Regions from separate parts of the Homo sapiens genome. Here all the other regions are linked to region 1. Evidence: fine-mapped expression QTL. A gene starts in region 1. Each other region holds a variant in brackets. All regions are shown on one strand. Distances are between the middles of the regions.

Region 1 (2,683 bases):
CAAAGTGCTGGGATTACAGGTGTAAGCCACTGTGCCCGGCCTGTTTTATTATTTTTTAAGTGATAAAAATATACAAGTAATAGAGAACAATCTCATCTCAGTAGTTCCAGACCAGCCCCACACTCCCATGGCAACTCACCTTAAACATCTGGTGTGTATTTGTTCATGCATTGTTCTTTATACATATAGTTTTCCTTTCTTGTTTTTATAAAATGGCACTGGTGGGCATATATATATTTTTGGTGGGGAGGGAGGGATGGGGTCTCCCTCTGTCGCCCGGGCTGGAGTGCAGTGGCAAGATAATAGCTCACTGCAGCCTCCACCTCCTGAGTTCAAGAGATCCTCTTGCCTCAGCCTCCCGAGTAGCAGGACTACAGACGCTTGCCACCCTGCCCCGCTAATTTTTATTTTTTGTAGAGATGGGGTCTCCCTATGTTGCCCAGGCTGGCCTCAAACTTCTGGGCTCAAGCAGTCCTTCTGCCTTGACCTCCGTGCTGGGATTACAGGTGTGAGCCACCGCACCCGGCCTAGTGAGCATATTTTTAAGGTGTATGTCAATTAGTGTGGAACACTGATGGAACGAACATAGCAATAATTAGAATTGCCACTCATGGAGCACATATTAAGTGTCGGGCATTGAGCACCAAGCATTGTGGACAGACGCTTTATTTTCACCAGGTTTTGAGTGCTTACTGGGTACTAGACTTTTCAGTCAATATTAATCATCTACTATGTGATTCTACCAAGTGCTTATGAACAAGTGTGCAGCGCCTATTCTGCGCCAGCCTTTTGCTTGCATCTCATTTAAACGTGAAAACAAGGAGTGATCTCTATGCTCTGCCCAGGGTGGGGGCGCGGGCCCGAGCAAGGGGTGCACACCTGAGTAGGGACAGGACGGGGGAAGCGGCGTCCTCTTCCCTGGCGCGCTGCAAAGCCAGGGCTACCCTGAATGGCCAGGGGGAGAAGGGGCCGGCGGAGGTCAGGCCGAGGGCAGGCGGCAGCGAAGGGCTAGGCGGACGTCCAGGCCACCCGGGTGGCCTCGTCCGCGGAGCGGTGGGCGGAGCGGCGGGCGGGGCCTGTATTGTCCGCTCCGCGAGGCATGCCGGGAGCCCCGCCCCCAACATGGCGTCTCACTGACAGTTGGTTGCCGAGCGGCAGAGGCGGATCCTGCTCCTGAGGGCGGCGGCGGCGGCGGCGGCGGCGGCGGCGGCAGGGCCGGGGTCTCCCGGGCCGGGGTCGGGGGTATGGCGACTCGGACCGCCTAGGGCGGAGTTGCACGGGCGAGGCAGCAAGTGGGGCGCCGCTGGCGGGCGCGGCGGCCGCTGCCATGGACTGGTGATCGCGGCGGCTCCTGCTCCGTTTCCCCCGGCCGGGCGTCTGCTCCTCAGCGCCAAGCCTTCAGCCGGGGCCATGGGCTCGTCGGCGGCCGCGGCGGCGGCGGCGGCGGCGGCCGCTGACTCGGCGCAGTGGCTCTCGGTGAAGGAAGAGACCATCTTCCTGCACGACGGGCTGATCCGGGTCACCGACCTGGCCGAGCTGCCCAGCGAGATCCTCGGGGCCCCAGAGGCCGCGGACACCGACCTGGAGGTGAGCGAGGCGGCCCCCGGCCCCCGCCATCGGACTGACCCACTCGCCCGGCACCCCCGGGTCGGGCCCCCTCCTCGCCTCAGCCGCGGCCTCGCCTCCCGGCGGCTGCCGGGGCAGGTGTGTGTGGGCGCGGGGCGGGCAGGTGGGGCCGCGGCCGCAGGTCTGCGGACCGCCCGCCCCGCTCTCCCTCCCTCCCTCCTCGGGGCCTGGCGCCCGCAGGGGATTTCATTTGTGGTTTTCTTTTGAGCGTTCCGACACCCGGCATTTTATTAGGCTAGCGCCTGGCTCGGCCTTCATGCCCCAGAGGAGCCACCGCCACCACCCGGGCCCTCCCTCCCCTCCCCCACGGGCCCCCAGGACCCACTTCCAGGGCACACCCAGGTTGCTTAGCTTTGGGAACATTTTGATTTTCACGCTGTGTACCCTCCCATCCTTTTCTTCCCTAGTTCTGTTTTTTTTGTTTGGTTTGGTTTGGTTTTTTTCCGGGAGAGGGTAGTGGCAGCTGCGGGTCCGCGATGGGCAATCCAGCAACTTCTCTGTGTTGTGTCTCGGATGGATTGACACGGGGCCTTTGTCAGGGAAGCGGGCGCTGTGGACAGCGAGAGGGATGCTCCAGCGGCCCTCCATGCACTCTCGGGGAAGGGTCACTGGCGCGTTAGGCCGCAGGGCCTTTTTGTGTGCCCCGGGGGTCGCCAAGCATCCCGGGTTCAGAGCCGTGGCAGGTGCAACAGCAGATCTCATCAGTTGAGCTGCTTGGCCTTGGGGGCAGAAGGGAACCAAATATGCCTGGTTGGTGGGAACTTTCCATCGACTTCACTTGGGTTCGTGTTTGCCTAGAGGTGGGAATACTGGCAGTGTCGTTTCATGGAGGCCAACGGATGCTGACACTGCTCCCCTTCCACTTTGTGGGATGACATTTTGATGTGTAGGTAGCATGGGGTGTCATCAAATTTTTACTGCCGTAAGGAGAGCTTTCTGGGGTAGGGCGCAGAGAGGATGGCCTATCTTCTGGCTATAAACGGCATGCGAGGGATCTTTTGTGTTTTGCGGTTTTGCGTGCAGTTTGGCTTTACGCACAACGAACATTTATAGAAAT
Region 2 (2,683 bases), 510 kb after region 1:
GAGCTCAAGAGATCCCTGGCAGGAAAAACAAAGGAACAAGAATGCATACATAATCAAATTGTTGGGACTTTTTTTTTTTAACTTTTATTTTGGGTTCAGGGGTACATGTGCTTTATGCATGTTAATTATATAGGTGAACTGCAGTGTCTTCACAGGGGTTTGGTATACAGATTATTTCATCACCCAGGTTTTATATAAGCATAATACCACATAGGTAGTTTTTTGATCCTCACCCTCCTTCCACCCAAATTGTTGGGATTTCTGTTTCTGCTAGGATATAGAAAGCTGGAAAGTGTCAAAGATAAATTATAAAATCATCCTTTTTTTTTTTTTTTTTTTTTGAGATGGAGTCTCGCTCTGTCACCAGGCTGGAGTGCAATGGCTCAATCTTTGTTCACTGCAACCTCCACCTCCTAGGTTCAAGCAATTCTCCTGCCTCAGCCTCCCGAGAAGCTGGGATTACAGGTGGCTGCCACCACACCCGACTAATATTTTGTCTTTTTAGTAGAGACGGGGTTTCACCATGTTCACCAGGCTAGTCTTGAACCCCTGACCTCAAGTGATCCACCCCCCTCAGCCTCCCAAACTGCTGGGATTACAGGGGTAAGCCACTGCGCCCGGCCCATCACTTTTTTTGAACCCATCAAAGATCAGGTCTCAGGTTAACCAATTATTCGGAAATCTTTAAGTCAGGCCCTTCCAAGGAGAGATGGGGAGTGAAAGCTGGCTCACCTATGGCAGAGCGCAGGAGGAAGTGATATCACATGCCATTTGGGTAAAAAGAATTCAGCGAGGTTTTTAACAAACTGCTAAAGGCAAAATGTGGGCTAGGATAAGAGTACAGACCCTCTAGGAGCCATACAAACAAGGAAGACTCATGCCTGCTCCCATACTCTTCTGCACAGACTTCCACCAGATATTCATGAGACTCAAGAACACAGGTCCTGCCCAACAGCAGAGAAACAGATACCTCTCGGTCCCCCATTGCCATCTCCCTTTCTGCAGGCTTGCAGGGACCAAGCAGTAACTGACAGCAATCTATTGCTAAGGGGGGGCCAAGACTGTAAAGAGAGATCCCCTCTGAGGTACAGGTGCACTAGCAAGGCCAAGACTGAGGGTAGAAGTGGAATATTTTAAAAAAATTTTTTTTAAATTTTAAAAAAAATGGCATTTCAGATCCCACCTAACCATAAGGTAACAAAACAGGAATCCCATGCCACTGAGGCACTGAAGACAACGATAGCAACAACAAAACTCACACTCAGCTCAACTTTTGAGTAGACTGATTTAACCCTCAAACCCAACACTAAAGGCCGAGCAACAGAAGAGGCATGCCCACTTTTAGGCTCTCAAAAAAGAAAAAGAAAAAAAAGAAAATCCTAATAAATCTACAAAAAATTTACTAGATTTAATAAATGAATTTAGGAAGGTCCCAAGACACAAAGTCAATATACAAAAATCACTAGTATGGGCCGGGTGCAGTGGCTCACGCCTGTAATCTCAGCACTTTGGGAGGCCAAGGTAGGCAGATCATGAGGTCAGGAGATTGAGACCATCCTGGCTAACAAGGTGAAACCCCGTCTCTACTAAAAATATGAAAAAAAATTAGCC[G/A]GGCGTGGTGGCGGGCGCCTGTAGTCCCAGCTACTCGGGAGGCTGAGGAAGGAGAATCGCTTGAACCTGGGAGGCGGAGATTGCAGTGAGCCGAGATTGCGCCACTGCACTCCAGCCTGGGCAACAGAGCAAGCCTCCATCTCAAAAAAAAAAAAAAAAAAAGTCACTAGTATGGCTGGGGGCAGTGGCTCACACCTGTAATCCCAACACTTTGGGAAGCCAAAGTGGGTGGATTACCTGAGGTCAGGAGTTCGAGACCAGCCTGGCCAACATGGTGAAACCCTGTCTCTACTAAAAATATAAAAATTAGCCAGGTGTGGTGGCGGGCGCCTGTCATCCCAGAGGCTGAGACAGGAGAATTGCTTGAACCCAGGAGGCAGAGGTTGCAGTGAGCTGAGATTGCGCCACTGCACTCCAGCCTGGGCAACAAAGAGTGCAATTCCATCTCAAAAAAAAAAAAAAAAACCCAAAACAAACAAACAAAAAACACTAGTATTTCTATAAACTAGTTAAAATTAGAAAATGAATTTTTTTTTTTTTGAGACGCAGTTTCACTCTAGTCACCCAGGCTGGAGTGCAATGGCATGATCTCGACTAACTGCAGCCTCCACCTCCCAGGTTCAAGAGATTCTCCTGCCTCAGCCTCCCAAGTAGCTGAGATTACAGGCACCGGCTACTACGCCCAGCAAATTTTTGTATTTTTAGTAAAGATGGGGTTTCACCATGGCAGCCAGGCTGGTCTCGAACTCCCGACCTCAGGTGATCCGCCTGCCTCAGCCTCCCAAAGTGCTGGTATAACAGGCGTGAACCACCACGCCCAGCTGAAATGTTTTACAATATCATTTCCAACAGCATCCAAAAACAAAATTTAAGGATAAATTTAAGAAAATATGTGCAAGACCTGTAACATTAAGAAGCATAAACATTTTTTAGGAAAATTAAAGACCTAAACAAATGGAGAGATATATACCTTGTTCATCGATTGGGAGACTTATATTGTTAAGATATCAGTTCTCTCCAAATTCACCTATAGATTAAATACCACCCCAGTCAAATCCCAGGAGGCTTTTCT
Region 3 (2,683 bases), 380 kb after region 1:
GAGGGATGAATTTTTTTAAAAAGTTTTGAAGTTCTTTGGGACTTAGCCATGATGTGAATGCTTATCTCTAGATAAAATTTAAAGGATTTTAAAAAAGTAATTGCTACACATAAAATGATAAATAGGTAATTTGAGTGATTTTATTTTGAACTCCTTGGTTAATTATTTTGTTTGTATATTGTTTCATCTATGAATAATTCAAATTTATAGACACTATTGAGGAGTAATACTCTCTGATATATCAAGGAGAATTGTGTTAGTCACATGATGATTTTGTTTTACTTTTTTAATGCATTTATTATTTTATTAATTGGACTAAATGATGAGACCAGACCAGTGTCTACATATTTTCATTGTTAGAAAAATCTACAAAAGTCTACCCTTTCTACAGTGATGACTTTAAACAAAAAAAAGCAGCATAAATATTAGCCTGCAAGAGCAGTCCTAAACAGTCACAATTAAACTATACTACACAAGAAGACTGTTGTGAAGCATTTACCTCCCCCAAAATCTTTACAGTTCCATTTCTTGGTGAAGTGGCACACTGTGGGTTGTGATTCTTAATTCTTCATTGTGTTTGTCAATAGGACATTCATGCTGGATAGGTTGTCTTTTATTTATTTTTTTATGTCTCAAATCATCTTGTGGGATTGTTTGCTCATCTCATAGTACAGTTTTAAACAGAAAGTTTGAAACAATGTAAATGGTTTTTGTGAAAATTATTAGTTACTATATACATGTGTATATATATGTATATATAATTTATTTTATTTTTTTTTTGAGATGGAGTCTCGCTCTGTAGCCCAAGCTGGAGTGCAGTGGTGCAGTCTCAGCTCACTGCAACCTCTGTCACCAGGGTCTCGGTTCAAGCAATTCTGGCTCAGCCTCCCGAGTAGCTGGGATTACAGGCATGCGCCAGCATGCCCAGCTAATTTTTGTATTTTTAGTAGAAATGGGGTTTCACCATGTTGGTCAAGCTGGTGTTGAACTCCTGACCTCGTGATCCACCCGCCTTGGCCTCCCAAAGTGCTGG[G/A]ATTACAGGCGTGAGTCACCGCGCCCGGCCAAGTTACAATATTTTTAAAGAGCTAGAATGGCCTCTTTGTAAATAGAAGAACATTTGTAAATAAAGTTGAATTTCTAAGTAAAAAAAAAGGACAAATACAAATGTATATATATGTGGGTTTTTTTTTAAGAGTTTTTGCTTTCATGTTTAGGATCATATCTTATGCTTTTTTGGGTTTTCTTTATTACCAGGCACTAGGCTGGTTGTATTTTTCTTAAGAGCATGACCTATATTATACATTTCTTTGTATTTCCTTCAAAATAATGCCTTGTTATACATAGGAGGGGTAGAATTTTTCTTGATTTCAATAATAGGTACTCAGTTAATTTTTGTTGTATAATTGATTGAACTTTATCTCCTGTTATTAGAATTGAGTGCAAGCAAACCTCACCTCGTTTTGTCCTCCTTTGCCCTGCCAAAGACTTCTGATATGTTTTAACATCTCCCTATACATAGGGTCCTTTCCTTTCCTTTCCCCCTTTCCCCCTTTGCCTTTCCTGAGAGTCTCGCTTTGTCATTCAGGCTGGAGTGCAGTGGTGTGATCTCAGCTCACTGCAACCTCCATCTCCTGGATTCAAGTGATTCTTCTGCCTCAGCCTCCCAAGTAGCTGGGACTACAGGCATATGCCACCATGCCTGGCTAATTTTTTTGTATTTTTAGTAGAGACAGGGTTTCACCATATTGGTCAGGCTGGTCTCAAACTCCTGACCTCAGGTGATCTGCTCGCCTCGGCCTCCCAAAGTGCTGGGGATTACAGGCATGAGCCACTGCGCCCAGCCTCATAGGGCTATTTCTTGAATTAATGATCAGAATGTTATTGCTCACAAAAGCTGCATGGCTGCTTTTCTTCTCCAGGGATTATTTATGTGAAAGTTGATTATACATATTGGATCATTCTTGTCATACCCAACTAAATTGGAGTCGAGAAGCCAAGGGGAACAAGCTCTCAGAGCACATAGCACCTGCTCCAATAATTAATATTTTCACAAGCCCAGCTACTAAAATAGTCCAATGTAACCCTGAGACCAGTTTGATCTTGTAGTTGCCAAAATGACTTGCCCTGTCTCTTAGGACTAGTTTTACATACCACGGTCACTCACTAATCAGAGTTTGCCGACTCCCAAAACTTTCTTTGGTGCCAGTGAGCTTGCTTTCAAAACAACATGTACTATTTCCCTTCTAATAAAACTCCCAGTCATCTCTTTGTTCTTCAGACATGTCCAAGACCACGCAGTCTGTGTGTATGCCCTGAAATGCAATTCTTGCTTCCCAAATAAAACATTTTAAATTTAGAGATTTTTCTTTATATATTTCTTGACTTCACCATTTCACATTTTTAAATCTCTTAACAGTTATAAACTTATGATAGGTCATAAGCCAGTAGAATCTATGACTGTGCCATCCAACTGGAATTTTAGCAAGCTTACCCAGAGAAAAGGCCATATGTGGTTAACATAATAGCTGATATTTATTAAATACTTTATACTTTTAAATGTTTTATTACATATTATTTCACTTTTTTATGTTTCTGTTAGCCAAGGCAACTTGACCATCTAACCCTATTAACAAGATATTAATTAGCATCTTACCTCTTTTTCTGGTTTGGGAGAAATATATGA
Region 4 (2,683 bases), 210 kb after region 1:
TGGCCTCAGTGCCGTCGTCTCAGCTCTGCGTCAAGCTGGCCAGTGGCGGTGACCCCACATATGCCTTCAACATCCGCTTCACTGGCGAGGAGGTCCATGGCACCAGTAAGTGGTGGCCCGCCAGGCTCCACGCTGGAGGAGCTGTGTTTAGTGTCCAGCCTTAGCCCCAGCTGCCCAAGACCTCCATTTCCAAGAGTAAAAGCCACATCCTCAGCACTTGTGCTGCAGAAGCCAGGTCTGCACCCAGAGTGGCCTCACGCCCGTGTCCTCCAGACCAGCCCCCTGTGGAAGCCTCGGCCAGTCCCTGCTGGGCTTGGGGACGGCACCTCTGCTCAGGGCCCTCCTCGGTGCTGATTGGCCCCCTCCCCGGGAAGGGCCCTGGCTGAGGAGTTGGTGGGCCTAAAGGCTTGTGTGTGCCCCATGAGAGGCAGGGTGTTGGGGAGTCCTTGGTTAAGATGGCACCATAGCACTCTTCAGGGATGAGGACTGGCAGCTGAGCAAGTGCTCCCTTGTGACCTCTTATGCTTAGCCCCAGACATTCAGGAAACGTGTCCACTGCAGATGGAGAAGAAAGCTAGTTTCTCCACAGCCGGGCACACTGGAAGGAAAGGCTGTCCGGGCAGGAGGGAGCCCCCACCCAGCTCCTTCTCCCCTTTCCTCTGATCTGCCCCCACGGGAACGCAGCTGCCTCCCAGACGGGGGACCCTGGCATCCTATGGGCAGGCCTCCTAGGCCTCTCTGAGAGCAACTCTGGTTCACTGACAGCCCAGACTCACGCTCGACACCTTATCCTTCCCACAGCAGCGAACCTGCCCAGAGTGCCAGCCCTGGCCCATCCTACACATAGGGAAACTGGGACTCTACAAAGCCAAGTCACTTCCCAAGGTCATGCAGCCAGCTGGGGTTCCAGGGTCCAGGCCCCTGGCCTTCCAGGCGTCAGCAGTCAGGACGCTCCTGCTTCTCCTTGAAGCAGAGGTGAGGGCCAGGCCCACCATCTGCCCCTGCACTGGGCCCCCACACTGGGTTTCCACATGGCTCTTACCAAGCAGGGTGTGGGCACAGCTGTGCTCAGAGCTCCCTGACCTCAGGGTACCGATAGGGAACACAGGGAAGGCCAGAGGAGATTTACAACAAAACCAAAGGCCCATCTTGAATGGCGGCGGGAGAGGATGAGCAGTTACCGTTGCCCTTTGCACATTCACACATTTGTCCATTCACTCACGCATTCATCGGACATACGCGAGCCCGGGCACTGGGGGAGGCAGTGCTGAGTGAAACAGGTGGTCCTGCCCTCAGCCTGGCCCAGAGGGACAGACATGGACCAAACAAGTCCACAACTCAGGCAGGCTTGCAGCTGTGAGAGGTTGCCTGTGTGGGGACCTGCGGTGAC[C/G]TCACTGAATCTTCGAATGGCCTTCGGGGTAGGTACGGTCACTCTCCCATTTGACAGACAGGTGACTGAGCCTCAGGGACATCTTGCCCTCCGTGGTATCCCTGGGTGGCCCCACTAGTGAGTGGAGAGCAGGATTGGACCTGAGGCCTCCCAGGCCTGGGGTGGCTTCTTTCTACCCCGCCACAGCGGCAGGTAGGCCGTGGAAGGAGTAGCCGCTCCAGCCAGCAGGTGAGAGGGAGGGAACGGTGTCGCCTCCCGCCGGGACACCCCAGGTGCCCATGTGTCTCGTCTGTCCTACAGGCGGCTCTTTCCGCCACTTCCTGTGGCAGGTGTGTAAGGAGCTGCAGAGTTCCTCGCTGTCGCTGCTGCTGCTGTGCCCCAGCTCAGCTGTCAATAAGAACAAGGTAGGCAGAGGCCGGGAGGAGGCTCCACGCCCCCGAGCTCATGTCCTGCGCAGTGGCTGGGGTGGCGGGCAGTGTGTGTCTCATCAAAGCCAAACCGTTTCAGAAACCCTCCCAATCTGTGGGGACAGGTCCTTGCCTCACTGGATGGGCAAGCTCTGGGAGCTTGCAGTGACTTCTCTCCTGCCTGCCACAGGGTATGGTGGCTTGAAACACATGTTCCCTGGCGGGCACAGAGGCCCACGCCCAGGTCACCTCATGCCCACCTCCACTTCCAGGGCAAGTATATCCTGACCCCGAGCCCCATCACCTACGGGGAGGAGCAGCTGCTGCACTTCCTGGGGCAGCTGCTGGGGATTGCAATTCGGGCAGACGTCCCGCTGCCCCTGGACCTCCTGCCCTCCTTCTGGAAGACGCTGGTGGGCGAGCCCTTGGACCCTGAGCAAGACCTGCAGGAAGCGGATATCCTCACCTACAATTACGTCAAGAAGTTTGAGAGCGTGAGTGCAAGGCACAGTTCTGGGGGGCTGCAGAACCCGGGGCCTCCCCGCCACCTTGCTTAGGCCTCCATGCAGACCCGAGCTCCCCGCTGAGGCTGGGTTGGGATCCCACAGAGGACCTTAGGGGTGTGAGCCATGTGCCAGGAAGGCTTATTTCATGGGGACAGAGGCCTCTGGCCTCCCTCCCTGCTGGCAGCAGAGATTGGAGGTGACATGACCAGCCCTGCTGGCCCTCCCCTCCCACATTGGTGCTCATTGCCTGGCCATGGGCAAGGGCTCCTGGAGCTGAGTGAACAGGCACTGGGAGAACAGCTGTAGGGGTGAAGGTTAAGAGTTTTTTCAGGGACTCAGAGCACAGGAGTCAGCCCTGGGACCACCTGAGGTCCACCAAG

What was found. PIP is the estimated chance that this variant, and not a neighbour inherited with it, causes the effect. A credible set is the group of variants that fine-mapping cannot tell apart.
Region 2: its variant is the best candidate, but not a certain one, in a credible set for the expression of HECTD4 in breast (GTEx, PIP 0.80).
Region 3: its variant is the best candidate, but not a certain one, in a credible set for the expression of HECTD4 in whole blood (TOPMed, PIP 0.89).
Region 4: its variant is the best candidate, but not a certain one, in a credible set for the expression of HECTD4 in blood mononuclear cells (TOPMed, PIP 0.68).

What each region holds. Positions count from the first base shown.
Region 1 is chr12:112,380,856-112,383,538 of GRCh38, reverse strand. It overlaps HECTD4 (HECT domain E3 ubiquitin protein ligase 4), which reads left to right and starts at 1,108. Exons shown (of 76, transcript NM_001388303.1): 1 at 1,108-1,587. The coding sequence starts at 1,411. RefSeq lists silencers at 788-1,077, 1,188-1,457, 1,468-1,957 and enhancers at 965-1,464, 2,650-2,683.
Region 2 is chr12:111,873,864-111,876,546 of GRCh38, reverse strand. All of the region lies in intron 7 of MAPKAPK5 (MAPK activated protein kinase 5), which reads right to left. Among named protein-coding and RNA genes, the nearest start is that of MAPKAPK5-AS1, 32 kb to the right of the region's middle. The variant G/A (reference allele first, on the strand shown) is at 1,612.
Region 3 is chr12:111,997,696-112,000,378 of GRCh38, reverse strand. The region is part of intron 3 of TMEM116 (transmembrane protein 116); the gene reads left to right. It also overlaps the pseudogene LOC724085. Among named protein-coding and RNA genes, the nearest start is that of TMEM116, 14 kb to the left of the region's middle. The variant G/A (reference allele first, on the strand shown) is at 1,034.
Region 4 is chr12:112,166,925-112,169,607 of GRCh38, reverse strand. HECTD4 (HECT domain E3 ubiquitin protein ligase 4) reads left to right here. Exons shown (of 76, transcript NM_001388303.1): 70 at 1-105; 71 at 1,691-1,794; 72 at 2,070-2,291. Among named protein-coding and RNA genes, the nearest start is that of MIR6861, 4.9 kb to the right of the region's middle. The variant C/G (reference allele first, on the strand shown) is at 1,391.